2 separate regions of the Homo sapiens genome follow, and region 1 is linked to region 2. Evidence: fine-mapped expression QTL. A gene starts in region 2. The other region holds a variant in brackets. All regions are shown on one strand. Distances are from middle to middle. Region 1 holds the start of CMTM5 (CKLF like MARVEL transmembrane domain containing 5). Region 2 holds the start of BCL2L2 (BCL2 like 2).

What was found. PIP is the estimated chance that this variant, and not a neighbour inherited with it, causes the effect.
Region 1: its variant is fine-mapped to the expression of BCL2L2 in monocytes after interferon gamma (Fairfax 2014, PIP 0.95).

What each region holds. Positions count from the first base shown.
Region 1 is chr14:23,375,860-23,385,121 of GRCh38, reverse strand. IL25 (interleukin 25) reads right to left here. Exons shown (of 3, transcript NM_172314.2): 3 at 8,719-9,262. The coding sequence ends at 9,242. It overlaps CMTM5 (CKLF like MARVEL transmembrane domain containing 5), which reads right to left and starts at 8,076. Exons shown (of 6, transcript NM_001288746.2): 1 at 7,745-8,076; 2 at 6,621-6,773; 3 at 6,253-6,453; 4 at 5,999-6,091; 5 at 5,739-5,823; 6 at 5,350-5,648. The coding sequence starts at 7,870. The coding sequence ends at 5,635. It overlaps MYH6 (myosin heavy chain 6), which reads left to right. Exons shown (of 39, transcript NM_002471.4): 35 at 81-206; 36 at 405-680; 37 at 1,802-1,897; 38 at 2,560-2,694; 39 at 3,059-3,135. The coding sequence ends at 3,082. RefSeq lists an enhancer at 5,058-5,127. The variant G/C (reference allele first, on the strand shown) is at 5,622.
Region 2 is chr14:23,301,865-23,318,704 of GRCh38, reverse strand. BCL2L2 (BCL2 like 2) reads right to left here and starts at 11,872. Exons shown (of 4, transcript NM_004050.5): 1 at 11,811-11,872; 2 at 11,426-11,513; 3 at 10,506-10,945; 4 at 6,954-9,889. The coding sequence starts at 10,937. The coding sequence ends at 9,740. It overlaps BCL2L2-PABPN1 (BCL2L2-PABPN1 readthrough), which reads right to left and starts at 11,872. Exons shown (of 8, transcript NM_001387346.1): 1 at 11,811-11,872; 2 at 11,426-11,513; 3 at 10,506-10,945. The coding sequence starts at 10,937. PPP1R3E (protein phosphatase 1 regulatory subunit 3E) reads left to right here and starts at 15,846. Exons shown (of 5, transcript NM_001276318.2): 1 at 15,846-16,545. The coding sequence starts at 16,129. RefSeq lists an enhancer at 10,180-11,013 and silencers at 16,060-16,569, 16,650-16,709, 16,720-16,840.

The sequences.
Region 1 (9,262 bases), 70 kb before region 2:
AATTCTTTCTGGAGAAAGGGTATGAAATCAGGTAACAAAGTGTAGTATATATTTGATCATTTTTCTCTCTCCATGTCTAGAACACCAGCCTCATCAACCAGAAGAAGAAGATGGAGTCGGATCTGACCCAGCTCCAGTCGGAAGTGGAGGAGGCAGTGCAGGAGTGCAGAAACGCCGAGGAGAAGGCCAAGAAGGCCATCACGGATGTAAGTGACCGCCCACCTTCCGCCTCCCCTAAAGACAGAAACAAGGCCTTGGGTCCAGGCCAGGCCACTGTGCTGTAACACCAAGCCAACTCTGCAGTTCTGTGGATTTGAGGGCCTGATGGGAGAAAGGAGATCCTTGGGGGGCAAAAGGCCCCGGCCCCTGGCCCATGTTCCTTGCCACCTCTCTCCTGCACACAGGCCGCCATGATGGCAGAGGAGCTGAAGAAGGAGCAGGACACCAGCGCCCACCTGGAGCGCATGAAGAAGAACATGGAGCAGACCATTAAGGACCTGCAGCACCGGCTGGACGAGGCCGAGCAGATCGCCCTCAAGGGAGGCAAGAAGCAGCTGCAGAAGCTGGAAGCGCGGGTGCGGGAGCTGGAGGGTGAGCTGGAGGCCGAGCAGAAGCGCAACGCAGAGTCGGTGAAGGGCATGAGGAAGAGCGAGCGGCGCATCAAGGAGCTCACCTACCAGGTGCGGCGGACGCCAGACACCAGGAGTAGATGTGGAAGTTTCTTCTCTGGCCCCACTGCCCCGCCCTCACAGGGCTCCTCTCACCTCCTCCTTGAGATGCTGTTGGTAGATTTAACGTTCTTCTCACGCTCTGCAGTCAGTTTGACTTGAGTCTATGAGTTTTTCCAGCAAATGAAGAATCTACTTCTACTTCCTGAAAACTCTTCTAACTAGTCTTTCCCCAGGTTTCTTTCTTTCTTTTTTTTTTTTTTTAATAACTCTAAGTGCTACCATGAAGACTTCAGAACAGTTCAAAGAATCCTTCCACCTTCGACTGTGGGGATAAGAGTCAGGGGAGGGGAAAAGACCCGGAAATCTTCCATAGAACTTCTGGCACACAAAGAGAAGGCCACAGAGAAAGAGGACCCTAGAATGCTCTAAAACCTCCACTTGCATAGCTGAGAGCTGTGCCCTTGGCCCGTTATTTTCAGTGTACCTGGGAAGAAAAGGCCAAGGAGACGAGGGTGTCAGTCCATTTGATAGATGGATACCAGAGGCACAAGAAAGAGGTTACAGATACAGAACCACAGAGTGATTTGTGGACAGAAGTAGAAATGGCATCCTGGCACATACAATGATAAAGAGATAGGAATGATCGAGTGACGTTGGAGCCAGTGATCCCGATGCCTGAATTCTGGCCCAGTACAATATATTAGAATGTAGAATAATCTGGATTATGATAATACCCCCTTCTTTCTGCATTCTTTTTCTGGTCAAGAACTACTGGCCAAGAGAACCTATGTAAGTCCAGGTTGGAGCTTTATCCACCATACTGGAGCTGGAACAGACCTGGTGCTTTTATATTACCACATTAGGGAATTCCATTAGGTTCTGAGCCCCTCCCCCTACTTCTAGCTTTATGACTTCAGCCTTCATTGCTCTGTGGATCCCTGACTGACAACCTTGCATTGCCCCTTTGACCTACGATAGAGTCAGAGAATCTTCCCCACCACCTCTTTGACCTGGATCATTGCAGGGAGGGGCAGCAAAGGCAAGGGGAGAAGAGTAAAATGATGGAGGAGGGAAAGGTGATTGCATTTGCTCCCCCTCCAAACCAGCTTCTCCCACCCTCCCACCCCCAGACAGAGGAAGACAAAAAGAACCTGCTGCGGCTACAGGACCTGGTGGACAAGCTGCAACTGAAGGTCAAGGCCTACAAGCGCCAGGCCGAGGAGGCGGTGAGTTCAGAGCTTTCTTCCCTTTCTCATCAACACACCTACTATTTGTGAGAACCAATGAATATCTCCTACAGAGGGGCCTGGACAAAGAGTTTGCTATAAACTTTAACTCTCAAACATTTGTTTGACACATCTGGTATGCTCAGAGCTGTCAGGTGTTCTGAATTAACAAAGGCACCACCTACAAGCTGCTTACAATTCAGATACCATAACCCAACAGAAGGCAGTGTAGATGCTAGTGCAGGACGTGGGGCAGCCGAAGCTGAAGGCAGGAAGGTGGCGGTGGAATTGGGCCTAGAAGGGGACCCAGCTAGCCACAGGGCAGTGGGGAAGACATCTGGGTGGATGTGAGTTGCTGATTAGCATGCCTGCACAGGAAGCTGGGGTCCGGGACAGGTGCAGCAAAACAGGATTCTGAAGGGGCCCAGATCGGGCAGCATGGGATTTGTCTGGGGCAGTGGATGGCCGTGAAGGACTCTGAGTGCTGGACATGTTTGAGAAGAGTGCAAGGCAGTTGCAGGATACCCTTGGGAAGGCTGTTGCAGGAATATGCATGAGGTATGGGTGCCTCAGGGACAGGGAGCTGGAACCTCAGGTTGAGAGGCTGAGAATCCCATAGCCCATCTCCAGCTCATTCACCCATCCCCACTGTCCCACCACAGGAGGAGCAAGCCAACACCAACCTGTCCAAGTTCCGCAAGGTGCAGCATGAGCTGGATGAGGCAGAGGAGCGGGCGGACATCGCTGAGTCCCAGGTCAACAAGCTTCGAGCCAAGAGCCGTGACATTGGTGCCAAGGTGGGTCCCTCCCCTGGGCTTCACTAGTCACTTCCACATTAGCATGCCCCCTGATATGGGTGCCCTTCAGAGTGGGCACTGCTTGCCCTATATGTAGGCAGTTCTGAGGGTCCCATAGCTTACATAACCTGAGAATCCACTCTCCTGCTCAAAACAGCCCCCCACTGACTGGAACTTCTGCAGAGATCCCCAGTTCCATCCCCCTAAACCACAAGTGCCTCTAACGTGGGACCACAGGATCCCTGGGGCCCTGCCTCTCCCTCCAAGGGCATCTCCCTTAGGCCTCTGAAAGCCCCAGGGATTTGTCCCCACACACTTCTCCCTCTTGCCAGCTGCCCCCTCACACCTCTTATTCTTTTTGCAGCAAAAAATGCACGATGAGGAGTGACACTGCCTCGGGAACCTCACTCTTGCCAACCTGTAATAAATATGAGTGCCAAACTCTGCCTGAGCCCATCTGTCCTTCCTGCCAGCTGTCCATCCTGGATCAGGGCAGTAGGGGGCCTGAGAGGAGGGAGGCCCCCAGCCCCTGTATCAGAGCTGCCAGAGCCAAGGCATCCCATATCCACAAGGAAGGAGACCGAGGTGCAGAGGAGTGAGGTGTTCTGCCTGACGTGGACAGCTGTGAGTCCCAGTTCTGCTCAGTCAACCACACAAGGGTGGAGAGGGAGAAATTTCAAAAGTGAAGAAAACAATGGCATCAAAATGGTGAGCCAGTCCAAGATGCTACGAGATAGAATTTTGGTGCCGAAGTTGAAGCCACTCTCCACCTACCCCACCCCTGAGGCTGCAATGATTAAAGGTGTCCTAGGACACCCATTCTTTCTGAAATGAATTTTCCACCAATGCCAGAAAAGGCTCAGAGCTGGCTGAGAATTAAGGTATGGGAAAGGAGATGGGAGAGATTCCATTCTAGTCAGCCCCTAGGAAGTAACTCCCAGGGAGCCCCCTCCCTGTCTTCCCCAGGGGTCTCCCCCTGCCTCCTATGATTCAGCACCTCACCGTGAGGGCATCTTGAGACTCTGGGGCCAATCAACACTGAGCCCAAACCAATATGCCATGAGGACCAAGCCTGGGCATTGCTCATTTCATGTTGGTTCTCACACAGACACAGATGGCACAGGTGCCTGTACAGGGAAACACTGTGGTCACATTTCTGCTCTCTCTAAGCTCCTACTGGGGACAGTCTGGCCTGGATCACACAGCTGCTTGTGGGACAGGCCCGGTCCTGACCCCGTTCTGCACAAAGCAAATCCCCACTCCCCACTGGGCTTTGCAGCCAGGCTCTGCTGACCGCCTCCTTAACCGTTCACCTGGCACCCCATCTCCCTGACTCCCCAAGTGGAGCCTCTTCTATCCCTCCTCTGAGACCATGAGAATGGACTGTGCATAAAGCCCTGAGAAATGTGAGCAGTGACCAGAGAAACACAAAATCCTGTTGGTTCTAGCCCAGGAGAGGCTGCCAGTTCTGATGGTGAGCCAGGACACAAGGATAGGAGAACAGGAAGCAGGAGGCAGGAAAAAGACCAAGAGAGAGGAGTGGCTGCCACCAAGGAAGCAGAGCGCTCTGACCAGAGTTCAAGATCCAGGGTTCGGGCAGGACTTGGGAGCTGGGGCCTGCAGCTGGAAGGAGCGCTCCAGAAGAAGGATTGTATCTCAGGGCGGGAACACACACACATCAGCGACAGGAGATAGCACGTCAGCTGGGATGGAGCTGCTGAGCCAGGCCATGCTGGGCTCCTCGGGCTGGGCAGGAACGTCTGGCTGCACATCTGTCTGTCTCGGCCCAGCAGGGCTGACTCCCGGGCTGTGGCAGTGTCTGCTCCAAACTCCCCTGAGCCTTCCCATAGCATTCACTGTGGGGAGCTCTTGACCAGCTTGTCTCTTTCCCAGCCTGTGAGTGCTAAAGGGCAGGCCCCCCGTCACCTCTGAGGCCCTGGCACCCAGCACAGTGTGCATGGGAGATGCTCAGGAAATGTGTGCTGAGGAGCTGGCAAGCTGGGAGGGTGGACCCGCAGTGGAGGGAAGAGTTGGCCATTCTTTTCTGAGCTACAAGGAGGCTCAGTACAGTATCCAGAACACTCGCTTAGGTGTCAGAAGAGCTGCGTTCTGGCCCTAGCTCTGTCACAAATGAGTTCACCTCCCCTGGCTGGGCCTGTTTTCTCTTATGTGAAATGAGGGCATTGGACCAGCTGATAATCAACGGCTCTCCCAGCATTCGCATTTTGGGAAATCTCTCCCTCCTCTGATACCTCAGGCTGCCCTCTCCCTGCGTCCTGTGGGCCAAGTCTTCCCCACACCACAAGGGGGAGCTCTGCACACGCCCCAGGCGAGCGCCTGGCCTCCAGCCCACTAACCTGCGGGAACAGGTGTGGTGGTGCATGCATGCTCCCATGAGGAAGGCTGTGCCTTCTCAGACACAGAACTCCAGATGCCCAGCCACCAGGCACACCACAAAGTGGCCGTGCACACAGAGGTGTAGCGTAGAAGTTTTGTGTTGGAGGATGTCTTCAGCTTCTTCTGGCTAGCCCCCACATCCTCACTGCTCAGACCCAGTCCCAGAGACAGACCACGACCTGCTCTGGCAACATTCCCATGAATACTCCTTGACATTCCTGACCTGCCTAATTTCTGGGGAAGAAAGAGACTCACCAGTAGAATTTGAATATTTTAATTTGGGAATGACTTAGAGGTCCAGATTCCTCCCCTCCACCCCCCCTCCCCCAATAAGTTCCCCTCCTCTGGCCAGAGCTTCATGAGAAGCCACATCCTGGAGCACCAGGCTCCACAGATAAGTCCCCAGTGACGTCTCAGGCCAGACTGCTGTGTAGGGCTGGGGTGGGGTTTGGCGGGCTGGGGGCTAGTGAATCCCAAGGAGACGTGTCTGGGCTCCACTGTCCTCTCTGGCTGGCTGGGCCTAGGAGCCA[G/C]GTAGCCCCAGAGTCACTGCTGGTCCCCTGTGAGGATAGAGCCAGGTAGGGACCCACATCAGGATGGGTAGCTAGGGTGGGGAGGGCATCTCCTCTCCACAGAGCACAGGCACTCACCCTGGCTGGCCCCGGGTGCCATCTCAGTCCGGTAGATCTTGAAGGCATCATAGGCAAAGATGGAAACCAGGATGATGCCAAAAACCTGTGGGAGTGGGAGTGGGGATGGCAAAACAGAGGCTATAGGGCCATTGGGTTAAGGTATAGGGTGAGGTGCAAGCCAGAACCCCAAGTCCTGGCTGTGGCTTCTGATACAGAAAGTGTGCAAGCACCAGCCTGAGCTCTTGAGGGGCTAAGGAGTCCTGCAGGGCTGAACTCACAAAAGCAGCAATGGCAGCTCCGTCCCGGGAGGTCACAGCTGCAAAGGAGACCACCAGGAAGATGATGATGGCACTGACACAGCGCAGGAAGTCCTGGGGGCCAGGGGTGCAGGGTTAACAGGACCTCAGAAGGCAGGGGGCGTTACCCTGAAGTTTTCCAGGCTAGCCAGCAGCCCGACCCTGAGGGATTCTGAACCCCTCCATAGGATACCCCTCACACAATATGAAGCACATTCAAGAGACAGAGCGCTCACACTGCTACCCAGGGAGTGGAAGCAGATGAACCAGAGCAACCAGGACCAGAAGCCAGGCGCTGGGGCTGGAACCCAGGGGACAGCGGCTGGAGTATGCCAGCCCGGGGGGGTCAAGCCAGGCCAGGGCTGGGGCTGGACCTTTGCTGAGTGGGAGAGTAGATCTAGCGGATGTGGTCCTCCTGATTGCCCGTGGCCCTGCAGCTGTGAAATCAGTGTGAGTCAAAGCACACCTTTGAGTGCAGGGCATAGCATGGGACAAAGCCCAGCTGTGGTGTGGAAATGGAAAGAAGCTCGGGGAGGAAAGGAAAATGCATCATTTAGAGGAGAGGGAAGGGCCCCAAACTGGGCTAGGGGTCAGGGTTCCTCACCAGACAGGGCCAGTTAATTCGGTCGAAGCGCTGGTAGTACTGGGTGGCATAGAGGAAGAGGAAGGCAAGTGTGATGAAGAACTCCAGTAGCGCCGCGGCCATGTAGGCAGAGATGGAGGCCGTGAAGCAGATGAAGATGATGAGGGTCAGGGCCTGCAGGACCGAGCATGTGGAACATGCCAAGAAGGGGACACAGGCAGGGGCCAGGGCTTTGCCTTCCCCTCCTTGGAAGCTCCCCTAGGCTGGCACCTACTACCTGTCCTTGGAGGGGAGGAAGGACTCTGGCACATCTCCCTATCCCCTGGTGTCAGGAGCCACCGTTGCAGGGCATTTGCCGGTCAAGGGCAGTCTCCGGCCTCCCACTCTGCTCACCCAGCAACCCCAGCAGTCTGGCCAAGCCATATGGCTCCCAGGAGCACTATCCCACAGTAATTCATAGGTACAGTGTGAATGCCAGCCCCTGGAGTTGTGCCCACAGAGACCCGACTCCACAGGGACCAAGAGGAGCCCCCTGCCTCATAATGCTTTCCCCACCCCCAGATGCCTGAAAGCCCCCTGACAAGGACCAGAGCCTTTGATTCCATGCCAAGAGAGAAGGCAGATGCTGCCCAGTGGTTTCTGGGAGCCCCTTTAGCTCTGATGACCTAGGGTGGCATACGTGCAGAGGCCTTAACTCTACACTGTGGTCTTGCTAAGTAACCAGGGGAAGATCCTTTCCTGAGAAGAGATGTTTCTGGGCAGCAGACCACAGATAAAGTGCAGTTGCAGGAAGTCTGCCCTTTTTGATAGTTAGACTTCTTGGACGTGCTGAGAAGTGGCCATGTTAGAGGCTGTCATTGCCCCTGTCCCATCCCTATGTCTCAAGCTTCCTCAATGTCCCAAAAAGTCACCCTGTCTAACTGCAGTCCTTCCTGCTGCAACTGAAACCTGCTGTAAATGTCTCCGGGTGGAGAGGCAGCAAGAAGGCAGAGTAGGAGACGAAGAAGGGGCAGCTGCGGGCAGGAGAGGTGTCCAGAGGGCTTGGGGAAGGAGGCTACTGAAGGGTGAGCTGGGGGCTGGCATAAGGCTGGCCAGGAGCCGGGGGTCAGGGAGATGGAGGCACCAGGTTGGGAGGCAGCTGTTACCAGCTCGGTTTCCAGCAGGATGCCCTTGTGGGAGGTGAGGAAGGCCTTGTCCACCGCGAAGCCCTGGAGCTCTGCAACTACCCCCTCCTCAGGGTGCCGGTCCCGGCGATCTCGAGCACTGAGCATCTTCGTAGGGCCCACCAACACAGCCCCCTACTGCCAAAAGCCCAGCAAGAGAAACAGAAATCTGGCAGGATGGGGAAACAGACAGGAGCAAGAAGGCACTTCGAGAAACCTGAAAGTGAAGCAGGAGGCTTGCCCACAGGGCCCCGGGAGAGAAGGCAGGCGCTGGGGGCCTTGCCCAGATGGGCCCTCACCCAGCTGCCCAGAGTGCCTCTGCTGCTGCCTGCACCAGCCCCCTAGAGACCCATGGGGAGGGGCAGAGAGGAAGGAGGCTCTAATCCCTCCCCTTGCTTAGAGCCCAACCCAGCCTGGAATAGAGAAGGAAGGGGAGAGGAGGAGGTCCGAAAAGAAACTGGGAGGAGCTGGGATGTGAGTAGAGGAACAGGGGCAGGACTGGGAGCCCCCAGGGACCTAAGCCTGAAGACATTTGTGTCCCCCTTCTCTAACCTTAACCCTCTTGTTTGGCCGGTCCTTTCTCCCATTTCCTTTTAGGGAGGGTGTGAGCTGGAGCCCAGCCCAGGCAGCACCCCCAGGACCAAGCTGCAGCAGCCAGGACTGGAGGACAAAGGCGGATTGTTGGGGGACAAGGGGGCGCTCTGTGCCTGCTGCAATGCCTCAATGGGCCTCTGTCTCTCCAGCATGCCGGGAGCGCGGCCTAGCCCCCACCCTGGTGTTTGGGATGGGCCAGGGAGACAGAGATGGGAGAGGACGGGAGGGTGCAGCGGAAACTCTGGAGGGCGGAGAGAGCTGGCAGGGTGGACAGAGGTGAGGGCCAATGGTGGAAAGGAGAAGGGACAGGCTGGGAGACCGCGAGATGTTCAGGCACCACGGATGCCAAATACAGATTAGGCCATTTTTAAATAAAGATATTTATTTGGATAAATCTCTATACATTCAATAACAGCTTCCTCCTCAGAATCATCCATGTCAAAAGACTAGTAACTACACTAGAATGCACCCAAAGTAGATGCTCACTGAGTGATGAGTAAACAAACAAATAAAACCAGGGGCTCTTTCTTCTCCAGCAAGGGGGAAATATCTAGAAAGTGCCTGTGCTGGGCCAGGGTAGCAGGGGATGGGAAAAGAGGAAGAGACAGGAGTGGTGGCCTCCAGAAATGGGCAGAACTTTGAAAACCTTTCCTGAGAGAAAATGACAGGACACCAGCTTCCGGCGGCCCTAAGCAGCAGCTGCTCTTTTCAAAATGTGCAGAAGTGCAGGCTTTCCCCAAAGCCCCCCATCCTGTCCCGGGATCCTGCTGCTCCAGACAGCACTTCACAGGGGCCAAGCATCTGGGCATCCTGGCCCTTCATGGCAAGTGGTTGTACACCTGGCTCCAGGTTTCCCAAAAAGGGACCAGCCTCCAGCAGGTCCGGCTAGCCCATCACACGGGGCCG
Region 2 (16,840 bases):
ACTTTGGGAGCCAGATTGCTTGAGTCCAGGAGTTCAAAACCAGCCTGGGCAATATGGCAAAACCCATTCTCCACTAAAAATACAAAAATTAGCTGGGCAAAGTGGCGTGTGCCTGTAGTCCCTGCCCAGCTACTTGGGAGGCTGAGGCTACAGTGAACCATAATTGGTGCTACGTGCACTTCAGACTGGCAACAGAGTGAGACCCTGTCTCAAAAAAAAAAAAAAAAAAAGAGCCAGGTGAGGTGGCTCACGGCCTGTAATCCCAGCACTTTGGGAGGCCAAGGCAGGTGGATCACCTAAGGTCAGGAGTTCGAGACCAGCCTGGCCAAAATGGTGAAACCCTGTCTCTACTAAAAGTACAAAAATTAACTGGGTGTGGTGGTGGGCGCCTGTAATCCCAGCTAGTCAGGAGGCTGAGGCAGGAGAAAGGCTTGAACCTGGGAGGTGGAGGTTGCAGTGAGCCAAGATCGCGACACTATATTCCAGCCTGGGTGACAGAGGGAGACTCTCTCCAAAAAAAAAAAAAAAAAGTTGAGATTCTTAACCCAGTAATCCTATTTCTTATCTCTTCTAAAAATGTAATCCAATTTGTGAATAAATATTTTTTGTTTGTTTGTTTTTGTTTTGTTTTTTTTGAGACAGAGTCTCACTCCATAGCCCAACCAAGCTGGAGTGCAGTGGCGTAATCTCAGCTCACTGCAACCTCCACCTCCAGGGCTCAAGCGATTCTTGTGCCTCAGCCTCCTAAGTATCTGGTACTACAGGCGCACCACCACCAAGCCCAGCTAATTTTTTGTATTTTAGTAGAGATGGGGTTTTACCATATTGCCCACGGTGGTCTCGAACTCCTGAACTCAGGTGATCAGCCCGCCTCAGCCTCCCAAAGTGCTGGAATTACAGGCGTGAGCCACAATGCCCAGCCAGAATAAGTATTTTTATCAAAGTGAAAAAATACAGATAAAGGACCAAGTGGGCATTAAAATTACTGTACACAAGTAGAAGTAATTGTATATAGTCATTATGACTTTGAAACATTTTAACATCAAGAAAAAATGCTTGCAATATAATGGTAAGCAGAATTGCGTATACAAAATTGCATGATCATAAAAGCAGACAAACAAATACTAGAAAGAAGTATACCAAAATAGTAATTGTCTCTGGGTGACAGCATTATGATTCATTTTCTTTATAATTTTCTATGTTCTACAAATTTTCCACAATCATTATTTATTTATTTACTTGTTTATTTTGCTGCCTTTGTTGTTTGAGACAGGGTCGTTGTCGCCCAGGCTGGAATACAGTGGCATGATCACAGCCGACCACACCCTCAAACTCCTGGCTCAAGCAATCCTCCCTCCTCAGCTTCCGAAGTGGCTGGGACTACAGGTGTGCACCACTATGCCCAGCTAATTTTTTCTATTTTTGTGGAGACAAGGTCTCACTATGTTGCTTAGGCTTGTCTCAAACTCCTGGGGCTCAAGCCATCTGCCCAACTCAGCCTCCCAAAGTGTTGGGATTACAGGCATGAGACACCATGTCCAGCCCATTACATATTTATTTTTAAAAAATCACTCCAACTTTCAAACTTCTTCTACTAGGCATAATTACCTTATGAAAGAAACAAACACATTAGCTGAGTGTGGTGGCATAGTCCCAGCTAATCCAGACGCTGAGACAGAAGGATCACTTGAACCCAGGGGTTCCAGGCTGCAGTGAGCTATGATCATGCCACAATACTCCAGCCTCAGCAACAGAGTAGGACCCTGTCTCAAAAAAAGAAAAAAGCAAACATATTTAAAAGGCTATTTGAGGGACAGGTGCGATGACTCATGCCTGTAATCCCAGCACTTTGGGAGGCCGAGGAGGGTAAATCACCTGAGGTCAGGAGTTCGAGACCAGCCTGGCCAACATGGCGAAACCCCGTCTCTACTAAAAATACAAAAATTAGCTGGGCATGGTGGCGTGCGCCTGTAATCCCAGCTACTCAGCAGGCTGAGGCACGAGAATGACTTGAACCCGTGAGGCGGAGGTTGCAGTGAGCCGAGATCGTGCCACTGCACTCCAGTCTGGGCAGCAGAGTGAGACTGTCTCAAAAAAAAAAAAAAGCTTTTTGAATGGTGACTTGTAAGATCCTTCCCTATTAGTCTATAAACTGTAAAAGACAGGGAACCATCTTATATTTGTGTTCCCTTTGCCTATCACTCTGTGCTCAGTAAATGATAACTGAATGAGTCATCTTCAGTAATGAATAATCTTATTTTTTTAAAAAAGTAAAAAAATAAATGAATGAATACTCGTATTTATTATCCTGCCTGTTGTTGATGCATAGAGAATATCAAAGAGATAAGTTTTCCTCTGAGAATGAATTTTTTGAAATTTGGTATGTAATGGTGTGAGATTCACCCATTATAATTCTCTCTAAGTAATAACCTATAAACAAAGGACCATGGAGTTTTGGAAAAAGTGAAACTCCAATGATACTGTGCCCCAGAAGACGGGAAAATGTATTAATAAAAGGGAATCGGCCGGGCGCAGTGGCTCACGCCTGTAATTCCAGCACTTTGGGAGACCGAGGTGGGTGGATCACGAGGTCAGGAGATCAAGACCATCCTGGCCAACATGGTGAAACCCCGTCTCAACTAAAAATACAAAAATTAGCTGGGCGTGGTGACCTGCGCCTGTAGTCCCAGCTACTCGGGAGGCTGAGGCAGGAGAATCAATTGAACCCGGGATGCAGAGGTTGCAGTGAGCCGAGATCGCGCCACTGCACTCCAGCCTGGGCGATCTCAAAAAAAAAAAAAAAAAAGAAGAAGAAGAAGGGAATGGCTCAGTGGAGTTAAGAAAAGGAGAATTAAGTAGTAAAAATGGGTGAGGGCATTCATAGTTCTTCCCAGAAAAGTTTTCTCCCCAAACGACATAAATATTTGACGTCTTGGTAGTTTCATCCCTATTTTTATCTCCTTTCTTGAAATTTTTACAGACTACAATAATGCTCTATGATCTGGAACTACTTTGAAATTTTTACAGACTATAATAATGACCTATGATCTAGAGCTACACTTTAATATGATAGCCACTAGTCACACATGGCTACTGACCACTTGAAACATGAGTAGTCCAACTTGAGATGTGCTAAGTGTTGAATACACACTGAATTTTGAAGACTTAGTATGAAAAACAGAATGTGACATAATTCATTAATAACTGTTTAATATTAATTCCATGTTGAAATGATAATATTTTTATATACTGGGCTAAATAAAATATTAAAATTGGTTTAATAATTTCTTTTTGCATTTTAAATGAGGTTACTAGAAAATGTAAAACTACATGTGGCTTGCATTATATTTCTATTGGACAGTGCTGATGTAGAACCATGGAGTCTTTCTCCTTTACTGACCTCTGTCTTGGAGCAGACCTCAATAATCTTCTAATGTGGTCTGGTCCTGCTTACCTTGGCTCCCTAAGTTTGCCTTTGCATGGAAGTGGGGTAGCCATTTAAATGTGAAGGACCCTCTGTTGGGCTGCTTAATTTCCATCCTGCTTCGTTAACTTTTTAAAAATTTTGTACCTAAAGAACTTGTTTTCATATACTGTACTGGAAATATCTGGAAATATATGTTCATTGTCAAAGAATCAGAAAATACTGACAGCAAAAAGAACAAAATAAAAGCACTCATAAAGCCCACTATCCAGAGACAATCACTAATGATATTTTGGCATATATACTTCCTGAAAGTTTCAATATGCAAATATATATCAAGGCACACAGATATAAATATTTTAGCAAAATGGGATCATACTGTATATATTATTTTCTAATCTATTTTCTTTTTTTACCCAATTAAAAAAAAAAGACAAACATCTTCCCATGTCAATAAATATATTTTTCCAATTTTGTTTGTCATAGTTTTACCCAAAAGTCACCCTAGAAATGAGGCCTTCTCTGACCACTCAATTTAAAATTGAACTCTTACGTGTGTATATATACACACACATTCCCCTCAATGAATTATTTTTCTTTATGGTATTCATCGCCTTCTCACATATTACATAATTGTTAAGTTTTCTGTTTCTTTTACTATAATATAAGCAACATGAGAACAGAGATTTGCATCTGTCTGTTCACTCTACCTCAGAGCCTGTAACTGTGCTTAGCACACAGATGATGCTTGAATATTTGCTGCATAAATGACTGACTGAATAAACTACACAGCATTTCATTATGGTGTATTTTCTGCTGAGTTTCAAAATAGTCGATTTATTTCTGTATTTCTCCTGTATCTACATTTAAGGCAAATTTTATTTTATTTTATTTTATTTTTTATTTTTATTTTTTTTGAGACGGAGTCTCACTCTGTCGCCAGTCTGGAGTGCAGTGGCGCCATCTCGGCTCCCTGCAACCTCCGTCTCCCGGGTTCAATCGATTCTCCTGCCTCAGCCTCCCAAGTAGCTGGGACTACAGGGACTGCGCCACCACACCCAACTAATTTTTGTATTTTTAGTAGAGACGGGGTTTCACTGTGTTAGCCAGGACCGTCACGATCTCCTGACCTTGTGATCCTGACCTCGTGATCCGCCCGCCTCGGCCTCACAAAGTGCTGGGATTACAGGCGTGAGCCACCGCGCCCAGCCTTAAAGCAGCTTTTAAAGTCTTCAAAGGATTTGCTATTAAGTTACAACACAGAGGGCCGGGCGCGGTGGCTTACGCCTGTAATCCCAGCACATTGGGAGGCCGAGGCGGGCGGATCACGAGGTCAGGAGATGGTAACCATCCTGGCTAACACGGTGAAACCCCGTCTCTACTAAAAATACAAAAAATTAGCCGGGCGTGGTGGCGGGCGCCTGTAGTCCCAGCTACTCGGGAGGCTGAGGCAAGAGAATGGAGTGAACCCGGGAGGTGGAGGTTGCAGTGAACCGAGATCGCGCCACTGCACTCCAGCCTGGGCAACACAGCGAGATTCCATCTCAAAATAAATAAATAAATAAAAATTTAAAAAAGTAACAACACAGAATATCTACAATCTATCCATTTACTAATAATTGTAACTAAGTGTTGCCCAACTTTATTGAAGGTGTCATTTGTCCTAACACACTTAGGACCTTCTAATAGATTCAGAAGGTCCTAAGTGTGTTCTACTAGGTTCATCACAATTTAGCCCAAATATGCTGCTCTATGATGATTTGGTTTAATACAGGATTAAATTTTGGGCTATCTAAAGCGATAGATGGATTATATTTCCTTCATACAGTTCTCCACCAGTGTTATTTCTCGCTTAGGACCTTCTGAATCTCCATTTGGTGTTTTTAGAAGAAACAGTGGTCAAAACTCAACATCATATTTGCTTTTAGATGTCACAGAAGGTGGTGTCCACTATATCATTGTCTTCTTAGAAAAGCCACAAAATTTTTTTTGCCCCTCTTGAGTAACTGATAGGCTTTTATAAATCCTAAGAGGAATGTGAATTTCATTCTGTATTTTAATTTGCTTTAGCCACCAAGAAGCTCACAGCTGAATTCACAGCCTAGCTTTAGTATTTGGAAATGCTACTTATAGAATGTTTTTCTGTGCATTAATTTTCCTTTTGCCGCCATCTTATTTCAATTTTCCCTTTACCCCTACTTATTTTTTTTACTTAACCTTGACTTGAAATTCAACCCAACTTAAAAAATTTATGTTTTCCTATTATTTTGTGTATTATAGTAAGATATTGCAAATATTTTTTGGAACTAGGCAAATGCAAATCAATCATTAAATCAATCACACAACAGTGGAGATAAATACACCAGCTATCATACTTGATGATATTAACTATTAAGAACATCTAATTTCCTTTCCCATAGTGCCATATTCACTAAGCCACTCTCTGATTTTAATATGGTTTCCCCTGTAGACTTTTGTATAAAGAATAGAAAGAGAATGCTGGATTCCTCTAAACAATTATATTTCTTGCAATTTAACACATAAACCCAAGTACCAGTCTATTGCACTGGATTACAGAAAGGCTAGAAATTCCCACCTGAAATTTAAAATTAGGATCACTGTTTCAGTTAACATGATTTTGATGTGGTCCAAGATTAGAGGTAGAGAAGGATGAGCTGAATATTCTTAGAAATTCCATCCAGTTTATCAATTTGCATTAAAATGGCTGAAACCAAATGTCTCACAGGACCAGCAAAGGAAGCAGGGACTCCCATTTTTGCCAGACTCCGCCTTGCCTTATTTTTTGTTTGTTTGTTGTTTGAGATAGAGTCTCCCTCTGTCACCCAGGCTGGAGTACAGTGGCTCGATCTTGGCTCACTGCAAACTCCACCTTCTAGGTTCAAGTGATCCTCATGCCTCAGCCTCCTGAGTAGCTGGGATTACAGGCACGCACCACCATGCCCGGCTAATTTTTGTATTTTTAGTAGAGACAGGGTTTCCCCATATTGGCCAGGCTGGTCTCGAACTCCTGACCTCAAGTGATCTGCCCGCCTCGGCCTCCCAAAGTGCTGGGATTAGAGGTGTGAGCCACCGCACCTGGCCCAGACCTATTTTTAAGTCTGAGGTAGGCAGGAAGGCACCATGGAGAAATGTTCATTATTATCACACACTTCTGATTAGAGCCTGAACCACAACTGGGGGCTTGATTACTATCACACAAAGATTTTTGGTAGGTTTTCTTTGTTTCTCATTTGGTTATTGTTAGTGGCAGTCCCAGAGTACCATATACACACACCCTCCCAAGGCTCAGGTTGAAATAGAAGGAATTCTTGGCTTTGACCATTTGGCTGGTATAGGAGTGGGGTGAGGATGGGGGAAAGACTCTTTTTTTCTTAATGATCCCAACACTTTCTCAAATCCCTGTTATTCTAATTCTTGCCTTTAACAAGGTCATGAAGAGATGATTGGATCAAGGAAATGTCCTGACCCCAGGCTATACAGTGTAGAAGTCACAAACCCTGTTCAGTCCTTCTCATTAAACTTCTGGGCTTTATTTATTGTTTTTAATACGATCATTACATATTACACAAAAATAAAAGTCAAATGAACTTGGTATTTATAAATTATTAAATAAAAATACAGGAATATAGATTTATATTTATAGAGCTTTCTTTTCTTCTAAACTAACCAAATCTGTTCTGCCGTTTTATGATTTTAAAAAAGTAAAATAGTGTTTGTGTGCCCTAGAATAAGTGGGGAGTGGGATTAATAATCGCAGGACCGAGTTGCCCTACTTCCGCTCCTTCCTTGGCCTAAACAAAGTCCCTATTTGTCCCTTTGGGCTCTGGAGAGCAAGAAACCCCTCTCCTCCTACTTAATCTTTGAAAAATGGCAATTACATTTATTTCCCTTATTTTTTAAAAAATGAAATGGATTTAAAAATTGGGAACCATACTCAGCCTTCTTGGCCAAGAGCTAATCCCAAGGAACTATATGGCTCTAGAAGAGAGTCCCTAGTTTTCCCTGACAGAAGAGTCTCTGGGGTTTCCCTTCAAGCTAAGAAGGGCAGGACAGGTCAAAATTGCCCACTGTGGTCCCATCTAAGCTATGCTTCTGGGAATCCAGACCAAGCCCTTTACCCTTTCAGAAAACAGCCTCTCTTTCCACCCAGGTGTCAAGGCTTCAGAGCAGGGCATTTTGGTAACCTGGCCATGGTCCCTGCAGCTCCTCTTGGCTAAAGGTCCCGGGGAATGCTAACAGGGATATGTGTCCTGTGGTAGAGGGTAGGGTGAAGAGTGTGCTCCATACCTGGGGAAGGAAGCACAGACTCCAATTTGGAGCCGATGGTCTAGTCAGTGGTTTTCCAACTTTTTTTCAGCAGCAAACCCCTTAATGCAAATAAAATCTTACCCTGAACCCCAATATGTAAGACAGCTACAAGGGGAGCTGTTCTGTTTGAGGGCAAATTGCCCAGCCTGCTCAGCTCCCCACCCCCTTCATCTCCCCAAGGACTCCTGAGGCAACCCCTAGGAAACTTCAGGGCTCTGCCAAGCAGTTTGAAAACCACTGGCCTAGTTTGTCCTGAGCAAGTCAGAGACCCCCCACCCCAACTGCTTGCCACAAGCTGGCTCTGAGTTTCTGGTGTCAGCATACTCACAACAAGACCAAGTGGCACATGCAGCCTACCACCTCCCCTAGAAATACCATGAAAAAGTGCAGCCCTCTCTCAAAAGCAGAAGTCTGGACTCAACACCTGAGGCCAATTTGGTCCCACGTTCTGGCGAGCACAACTACGTTGCCACATTCTAGGACCAAGTGAAAATCTCCAAGAAGAGTCAACCATGGTCTAGCTAAGGTGATCAGTGCTCAGGACCACAGGCAGGGTTCTAGAGCACTGTGTCAGAAAGTTAGCATTGGAGAGCAGCAATCTTAGCACCTTGGAAAGTGCAGCAGTGAGGTCTGGCTCAGGGCATGCATCTGGAGTGAATAATTTCTTCCTCAAAAGAAAAAGCCATAATCTGAAGCTGTTCTAGAGGACTGCGAGTTCCAAAGTTAACATCCTCAGACTCTGAGGTACAGACAAGTAACACCCATGCAAACAGTGTGGCTTCAAATAAATCATAAATGCTTCTAGGTCATGGTAGGTACTCTAGAACCCATATGCCTGGCCCCTGATAAAGCCGAACCAAAGCCCACAACACAGCATAGGCCAGTCCTGGAGTACCCATCACCCTCACACCCATGGGATTCAGATCTGAAATGGTCATCTCAAGGCATCAACAGTCTCACTGAGACACAGTGTGGGACCCAGACTGTATTCTAGATCAGCACTTATGCCCACAACCTCAAAAGGAAAATTAGTTAGGGCCCCAATTTAGAGTTTCAGTTTGGGTACAGAGGTCCCAGAGATTGGAAACACTTTAGGCACCATTGTGCCTGAGTGGGAGAGGAGGGTGGCAGGCAGGTCCGGCTACCTAAGCCTCCACCCATCCAGGCTCAACAGCCCTGCCCTTCTATCAGAGCCCAGGAGGCAGCAGCAAGTGCATAATGCACAAGGAAGGGGGATGATGAAGGAACAAGGCCAGCTGCAGAACTGCTCTTCTCTCCAAAGCCTTGCCAATCACTTTCTGGAAAGAAGCAGCAGAGCCCTCGGTCTGGATACAATGTTTCTCTCTAAGCCTTGAGGCATCAGGACAAGGGCAGGGGAAAGGAGGGGTTGGGAGGAGGGACAGAGAACTGCCCCTAGTTCTTGCCATTGCAAGAGGGAATGTTTTCTCCTTGAGGAATCCCATCACCACCAGATTTGCCAGGCAGCCCAGCATGCACACCAGCATGCGTGCACATGCACACGCGTGTCCAAGCAGCCCACTGTTAACAGCCACCTCTCCCTATCACCTGAGAACCCCTAAGCTTCCATTCCAAAGGGATGTGCCTTCTGCGTTCCCTAAATCCCACTCATCTAATGGAATACAGCTGCTTATGTAAGTCCACCTTCCTCAGGGCTGTGAAGCAAGTTCCAGGTCGTTTCATGTGCCCACACCTATAGGCGTGATCCCTCCCACCTCCCCCAGCCCTGGAACGACTACATCTCCTGTGCCCCTAAACTTGCCAAAACATTCCCCTCCCCTCTGTGTCCTGCTCACTCTTCCAATCGCCTACCTGGCCTACTCAGCTCCCTCACACACTACCCTTTCTCTGCCCATCCTGTTCCATGCCCACCCATCCACCAACTCCACTTCTTCCAAGGGCATTTCTCTGTTCTGTTCCTGCTCTCCTGGCCCCCAGCCACACCTAGCCCCACCTGGCCCTGGACTTTCACTTGCTAGCAAAAAAGGCCCCTACAGTTACCAGGGCCCCCAGTGCCACGGCCCCCGTCAGCACTGTCCTCACTGATGCCCAGTTCCCCTCCCGCAGACGCCGCGCCTCCTCCAGGGCCCCGTCCCCGTATAGAGCTGTGAACTCCGCCTGTGGGAGAGAAGGGAAGCAGGAGAGAAAGAAGGAGAAAGGGATATCAGGAGAGGAAAGAGTGGAGAGAAGAGGAGAGGAAGAGTTCCAGTTCCATCCACTGCGAGCACTACCCCATACCCAGCTCCTCTCTGGCCAAAGCTCTTCTCCCTGCAAGCCCCTCTGATCCCCCCAGGTGCACCCCCACCCTGAGAGACTGGTTCATCTGCCCACTCTGCCTCCAGTGAATTCCATCCTTTCCTTGGCGAAAAATTCTGCTCAGAACTAGCATCCTTTGCCAAGGCTTGCCTGACCACCACCCATCCCTGGTCCTCCCCACCTCCCACGCCATGACTCAGATGTAAAAAGTCCCTGACAACATTCCCCTGCAGGCACTCCTTGGGTGTGTATTCTGTCCTCTGCTTGGGACCATGAGCCCATCCAGTGTTGACTGCATGGCAGCCCTGGAGTGCAGAGTCCAGGCATCTCTCAATCTAATTCCATCCAGACGGGGAGACTCAGCCCCGTACCTCATTCCCAACATAGCTGCCTCAGCCTCCAATCAGAGCCCCCATCTTCCCCCTGGAGACCAGCTTTGCAGAAGGATGTGCAGAGCGGCAATTGAGAAGCTTCTTACCCAGCCCCCACTGCTGTGGATCCAGTCAGCCAGCTGCGTCTCCAGGTAGGCCACCATCCACTCCTGCACTTGTCCCACCAGTGGTTCCATCTCCTTGTTGACACTCTCAGCACACAGTGCAGCCCCAAAGACAAAGAAGGCTACAAGGCGGCCCCAGTTGGGGCCCCCTTGAAAAAGTTCATCGGAGACCTGGGTGAAGCGTTGTTGGGCTGAGCCTGGGGTCACATGCAGCTGAGCCGCCAGATCAGAGAAGGTGCGCCGGAAGCGGGTCTCGAACTCATCTCCAGCTGCCCGCATGGCTTGGTGCAGCGGGTCAGCTGCTGGGCCCTCCCCGGGGCCAGCTCCACAGACATAACCCTTCTGCCTCAGCTTATAACCTACAAAGTCTGCCACCAGAGCCCGTGTGTCTGGGGCCGAGGCTGGGGTCGCCATCCGGGCGGCTATAAGAGGCAAGGATGAAAGACTGGCATGAATATATGAAGAGAGAATCAGAAGGAGCACTTCTGGTTTGACCAACCCAGTGAGATGAGGAGGAGAGAGGAAATGCTCAGGACTCACTGGACAGGGAGAGGCAAGAACAAGGGAATTAAGTCATGATATGAGACTAGGCTGTGAGTGGCTGGCCATTACATTCCTAATATGCCAAATTAAATGTAAAACAAGTAAATTTTCTGTTTAGGATACTTTAGATTCTTTTCACAATAAGACAACGTCAGCTCAATGACACCCCTACAACACCCCCACCCCCGGGTCTCCTTAGTCCACACCTTCTTGGCTAGAGGAAGGGTCTTAGGACCTCCCCAAATGCAAGATGTAAAGATGTTGGCAGAGACACAAGATGAGGGGGAGCAGATGGGCTGAAGAGAAAGGTGGGAGACGCAATGGGTTACTCCAGACAGAGAAAGGAAGGAGACACTCACCCAGCCGGGATGGCAGCTCTTAAGACACAGCACTGGTGGCAAGGAGCCCCCAGCTGGGGCCTTTCATCCTCCTGGCCAGCGTGGAGCCCTGGAAAGGGGAGGGGGAGATCAGAACCAGGAGGGGAAGGCCAGGGATCAGGTTCTGGCCTGGGAAGGGCTAGGGTTGCAGCTCTGGGCCTAGGCCCCTGCCCCCAACGCTCTACCAGCTGTGTGGCCGAATCCATGTTTAATGACTGTCCTCCCGGGAAACCCAAGGCCAAGGGCTTCCTGCCGACACCATCTCTATTCCCGGTTCCCCCTAGTGCAGCCCAAAGGCCCAGCTCCTCCCTTACCCCCACCTCAGCCAGTCTCCAACCCCGCCCGCCTGCCAGGTTAGGGATCTCACGGGTCAGGCCGCTGCCGGGATCCGGGCCGTTTCCTGGTGCAGGAGCTGGGAGGGAGGGAGAGAGGGAGGAAGGGAGGGAAGGAAGGAGGGAGGAGAAAGGGGGGGGCAGAGGGAGGGCCCGGCGCCGGGTGATGATGGGGCCCAGAGATGCGTCCAGAGAGAGGGGCGGGGCTGGGACGCAGGCCTGCAAAGGGCCACTACTCAGGAAGAGGGAGGGCTGCTGAAGGCAAAGAAGGGCTGGCTGAGAGGGCACGGTGGGCTGGGCTGGGCTGGGCTCCTGAGCCTCTAGGCTGCCCAGAGAAATATGCCGGACTTCGGGACATCTCGGGGCAAATTTAGCATTTTCAGGAGGTTTCCGATGTTCCATGCACTTGTTGAACTTTTCCAGCCCTGAACTGTGTGCCTGGAAAACAGGAGCAGTTCCCATTAAGCTGGGAACCGTCTACCAGGTGCCTTACCCTTATGGGGCTAGCAGACACCACATAGACACCAAACCTTTCCCATCTTTTCTCCAGGACCTTTAACCCAGTGTTCTCTTTGTGGGCTGGGCTTCAGCCAGGCATTAGGGAGCCAGGACTTGGATCACAAGCAGTTTCTCTCGGTACTTTTCTTTAATTCATCTTCTTTTGTAATTAGATTGATTTTAGTGGGGTTTTTTTCTTTTTCTTTTTTTTACCCAACACACAAACTCATTCTCATTATGAAAAAAATCAAACAATAAAGACGTGCGGAGTAATAAAATACAGGTTCTCAAACACACACACACATACACACCCAATTCCACTTCCCTCCCTGCAGGTTGCCAGTGTTAAGCTTGATGTTTATCCTTCCAGATTACATATATATGGGGCCATTATTTATACATGGCAGTATATTTATACAGGGCAGGTCACAGGCGTGAAGCAGTCTGACCATAGCTGATCCACATGAGGGCACTCACAGCCAGCCCCCTGGGCTCTTGGATCTGGCACTTTTTTAAAGAGTGCCCCAACCAAAGGCCAGAAAGAGGCAACCTAATTCTCCTATTCTGCTAGCTCCCTTTGCTTCTACCTCCAATCCAAGCCTCTGTATTACCATCTTCCCTTATGGTCACTGGAGAAGCAAGGTCTTTTCTGCAGCAATAACAGTAACAACTAGCTGGGTTCGGTGGCTCATACCTGTAATCCCAACACTTTGGGAGGCCAAGGCGGGTGGATCACTTGAGGCCAGGAGTTCGAGACCAGCCTGACCAACATGGCAAAACCCCATCTCTACTAAAAATACAAAAATTAGCCAGACGTAAAATACAAAAATTAGCCAGCCTGTAATCCCAGCTGCTCAGGAGGCTGAGGCATGAGAATCACTTGAACCCAGGAGGCTGAGATCATGCCACTGCACTCCAGACTGGGTGATAGAACGAGACTCTATCTCAAAAAAAAAAAAAGGTAAAAACTAACATATTTTGAGGAGTTATTAGATGCTGTGCTTTTTTTACATGTGTATTTTTTCCTCTCACCAGTCCTTATGCTGTTTTATCCTCATTCTATGAATGAGGAAATTGAGGTTTGGAGAGGTTAAGTGATTTTCCCAAAGCCATAGGCTGATATGTAAGAAGCTAGCACAGCCATCTCATGCTGTAACTTTGACACTATCGCTTCAAGATCACCTCTTGCCTTCACATAGTCAATATGGTTCTCATAGTCTGAATCCACACCATTTACAAGTCCATACTCAATTCTCTCCTCTATTCTAAACACACAGCCTATTACACTCCTTTATGGCTGTATCCTTTCAACCATCCTCATTTCATTTTTGCTCTTAGCCTGATCATTCTGGCTGCCACCAGCAAGGTTGCCCTCTTCTTTAGAGAATAACCTAGTCCAAGTCTTCATTTGCACTCCTGGTTTATTTGTTTGTTTGTGATACAAGGTTCTCACTCCATGGCCTAAACTGGAGTGCAGTGGTACAAGCACAGTTCACTTCAGCTTCCACCGTCTAGGCTCAAGCAATCTTCCCACTTCAGCCTCCCTGGTAGCTGGGACTAGAGGTGTACTGCACCATGCTTGGTTAAATTCATTTTTTATAGAGATAGGGATCTCATTATGTTGCCCAGACTGATCTCAAACTCCTGGGCCAGCTTGATTGTAACATAAATTAATGTATGATTTATTAGACATTAATTTATATGCATTATATATATTATATTGTATATGCATATACAATATATACATTGTATATATTGTATCACATATAATGATACGAAGAGAATACATCCATGCATTCTATATACGTGTAAAATTTAAAAAGTCAATATTGCTTTAAAAATGAGTCCTAGCTAACTAGTATTGCTACAGTCAATACTAGTGCGAATGCATGTAAACAGGAATGAATTGTATAATAATAAGATAACATGTGTCTCATGGTTTATTTTCAACTTAGTCACTTGTGGTTTTACAGTTAAACTATCCTGCTGCTTTAAATTTAGAGACTTCATTTCTACTCTAATATTCCCTCTTTTAACACTCTGAGGATGTTAACTATTATTGTTAAATGTTTTAATCTTATATAACCAAGCGGGTAAGAGCGTGGACTCTAGAGCTAAACTGTTTAGGTCCTAATCCCACCTCCCCAATTATTAACTATGTGACCCTGGGTAAGAGTCCTCTCCCCTCTCTCCCTCAATTCTCTCATCTTTAAACTAGACATAATAGTCTCTATTCCTCTGATGGTTGTATTACATGGGTTAGTATTTGTAAAACCCTTACAACAGTACCTAGCACATTGTAAGTGCTATATTAGATCAGTAGGAAAGTTAGAAAAAAACTAAAAACAACTTCACTTTTTTTTTTCACTAATGTTAAAAAAAAAAAATGAAAGGGGAAAAAGCCAGCTCTGCCCTTCTTGGAAGCTCCCACTGGACCTATAATTCCACAGTCCCAACTCCAAGAGAGTTGTTGGGTGCTTGTTCATTCAATAATTTGAGTGCCTACCATATACTAAAACTCACCATGAATCAGACAAAGCCCCTGCCCTCAAAGGGCTTACACTTGGATTAGAAATCAGAACTCCACCACTTTTTTACAGATAAGAACACTGAGTTCAGAGTATGGCTCTGAGTTCAGGGGTGGCTCACACCTGTAATCCCAGCACTTTGGGAGGCCGAGGCGGGCAGATCACCTGAGATCAGGAGTTCAAGACCAGCCTGGCCAAGATGGTGAAACCCCGTGTCTACTAAAAATACAAAAATTAGCCGGGCGTGGTGGTGGACGCCTGTAATCCCAGCTACTCAGGAGGCTGAGGCAGGAAAACCGCTTGAACCGGGGAGGCAGAAGTTGCAGTGAGCCGAGATCACGCCACTGCACTCCAGCCTGGGCGACAGAGCGAGACTCCATCTCACACTCACACACACACACACACACACACACACACGAGAACACTGACTCCAGAGAAGTTATGCCTTGCTTGCTCAAGGTCACTAGAAGCTAGGTCTTCCTGCAGTTCTCAGTTCGGGTGCCATATTCTCACCTTCTATTTGAAAGACTCTACCTAGCTTTCATGACCTTTCCTTCTTTGCACGCACCACCACCCCCTGCCCAAACCAGGAGCCTAGGTTTCAGAAAAGAAAACAGTGAACCCCAAAGATAAAGTCACATGCTGGGCGTTTTGAACCTTCCCCTGCAAGAAAATGAAAGGTTATTTTTTCTTCCCGGCGTTAACCTTTCCTGTGCTGTGCCGGAAAAGTTGAGGACTTTTTACATTTTATTATTATTATTATTGTAGAGATCAGGGGTCTCACTATGACGCCCAGGCTGGTCTTGAACTCCAGGCTTCAAGCGATCCTCCCACCTCGGCCTCCCAAAGTGCTGGGATTTGAGGCGTGAGCCATCGCGTCCCGTCCGTGGATGTTTTTTTTAAAAGGTTGAGTAGCTTCACTCGGGACCGCAAAGGTGGAGTCCCCGCCCCCTGGTGCAGCAGCGAAGACAAGCGGAGCCACCTGTCAGAGGGCTGTGGGCGGGGGCGCCCGGGCCGTGAGGGCCTTGGAACCGGAGGGTGAGTGCAGTTGAGCGCACGCTCAGAGCAGACCGCTAGCAGGAGGCAGGATGTGATAGTCTAAGACCCTGGAAGCTGACGGCCAGAGGGAGGGAAGGGTGGTCACAGAGGAGAGGCAAAGCAACGGGAGGTGGAGGATCCTGGAGGTGTCTGCAAGGAGAATACACAGCAGCGAGGGGCTGCAGAAGCGGACCCAGCGACTTCTGCGCTGACGCGGGGCGGGCGGGAGAGAGGAAGAGAGGGGAGCGCGGTGGCGCTGCGAGCTGGCCCCGCCGGGGAAGGGGCTGCCATGTCCCGTGAGCGGCCCCCGGGCACCGACATTCCCCGCAACCTGAGCTTCATCGCCGCGCTAACGGAGCGCGCCTACTACCGTAGCCAGCGGCCCAGCCTCGAGGAGGAGCCGGAGGAGGAGCCAGGCGAGGGCGGGACGCGGTTCGGGGCCCGATCCCGCGCTCACGCACCGAGTCGGGGCCGCCGGGCCCGATCTGCACCAGCCGGAGGCGGCGGGGCCCGGGCGCCCCGCAGCCGTAGCCCAGACACCCGCAAGAGAGTGCGTTTCGCCGACGCACTGGGGTTGGAGCTGGCTGTCGTGCGCCGCTTCCGTCCCGGTGAGCTGCCCCGGGTGCCCCGCCACGTGCAGATCCAATTGCAGAGGGACGCCCTCCGCCACTTCGCGCCCTGCCAGCCCCGCGCCCGCGGCCTCCAGGTAGGCGGCGGGGGCACCTCCCCTCCTGGGGACCTCCTCCAGTCGGCCGCAGCGGGCTTGTGGGAGTGGATTTGCCAAAGAGCACCCATCTCCATCCCATCCCTGGGCTTGCGCCTGCCCATCCCTTTTGGGGACCCCATCTGCGAGTGGCTCTAGGCCACCCTGGCAGCTGGGCCGCACTCTGCCGGCCTGGACGCCGGGGTCGGCCTCTGATTGGTCCAGTGCCTTGCTCTGACACCGCCCCCTGTCTCTCCCCTCTCTCCGCCCTGGGCTCCCTCCTCCCGCTTCTTCTTTC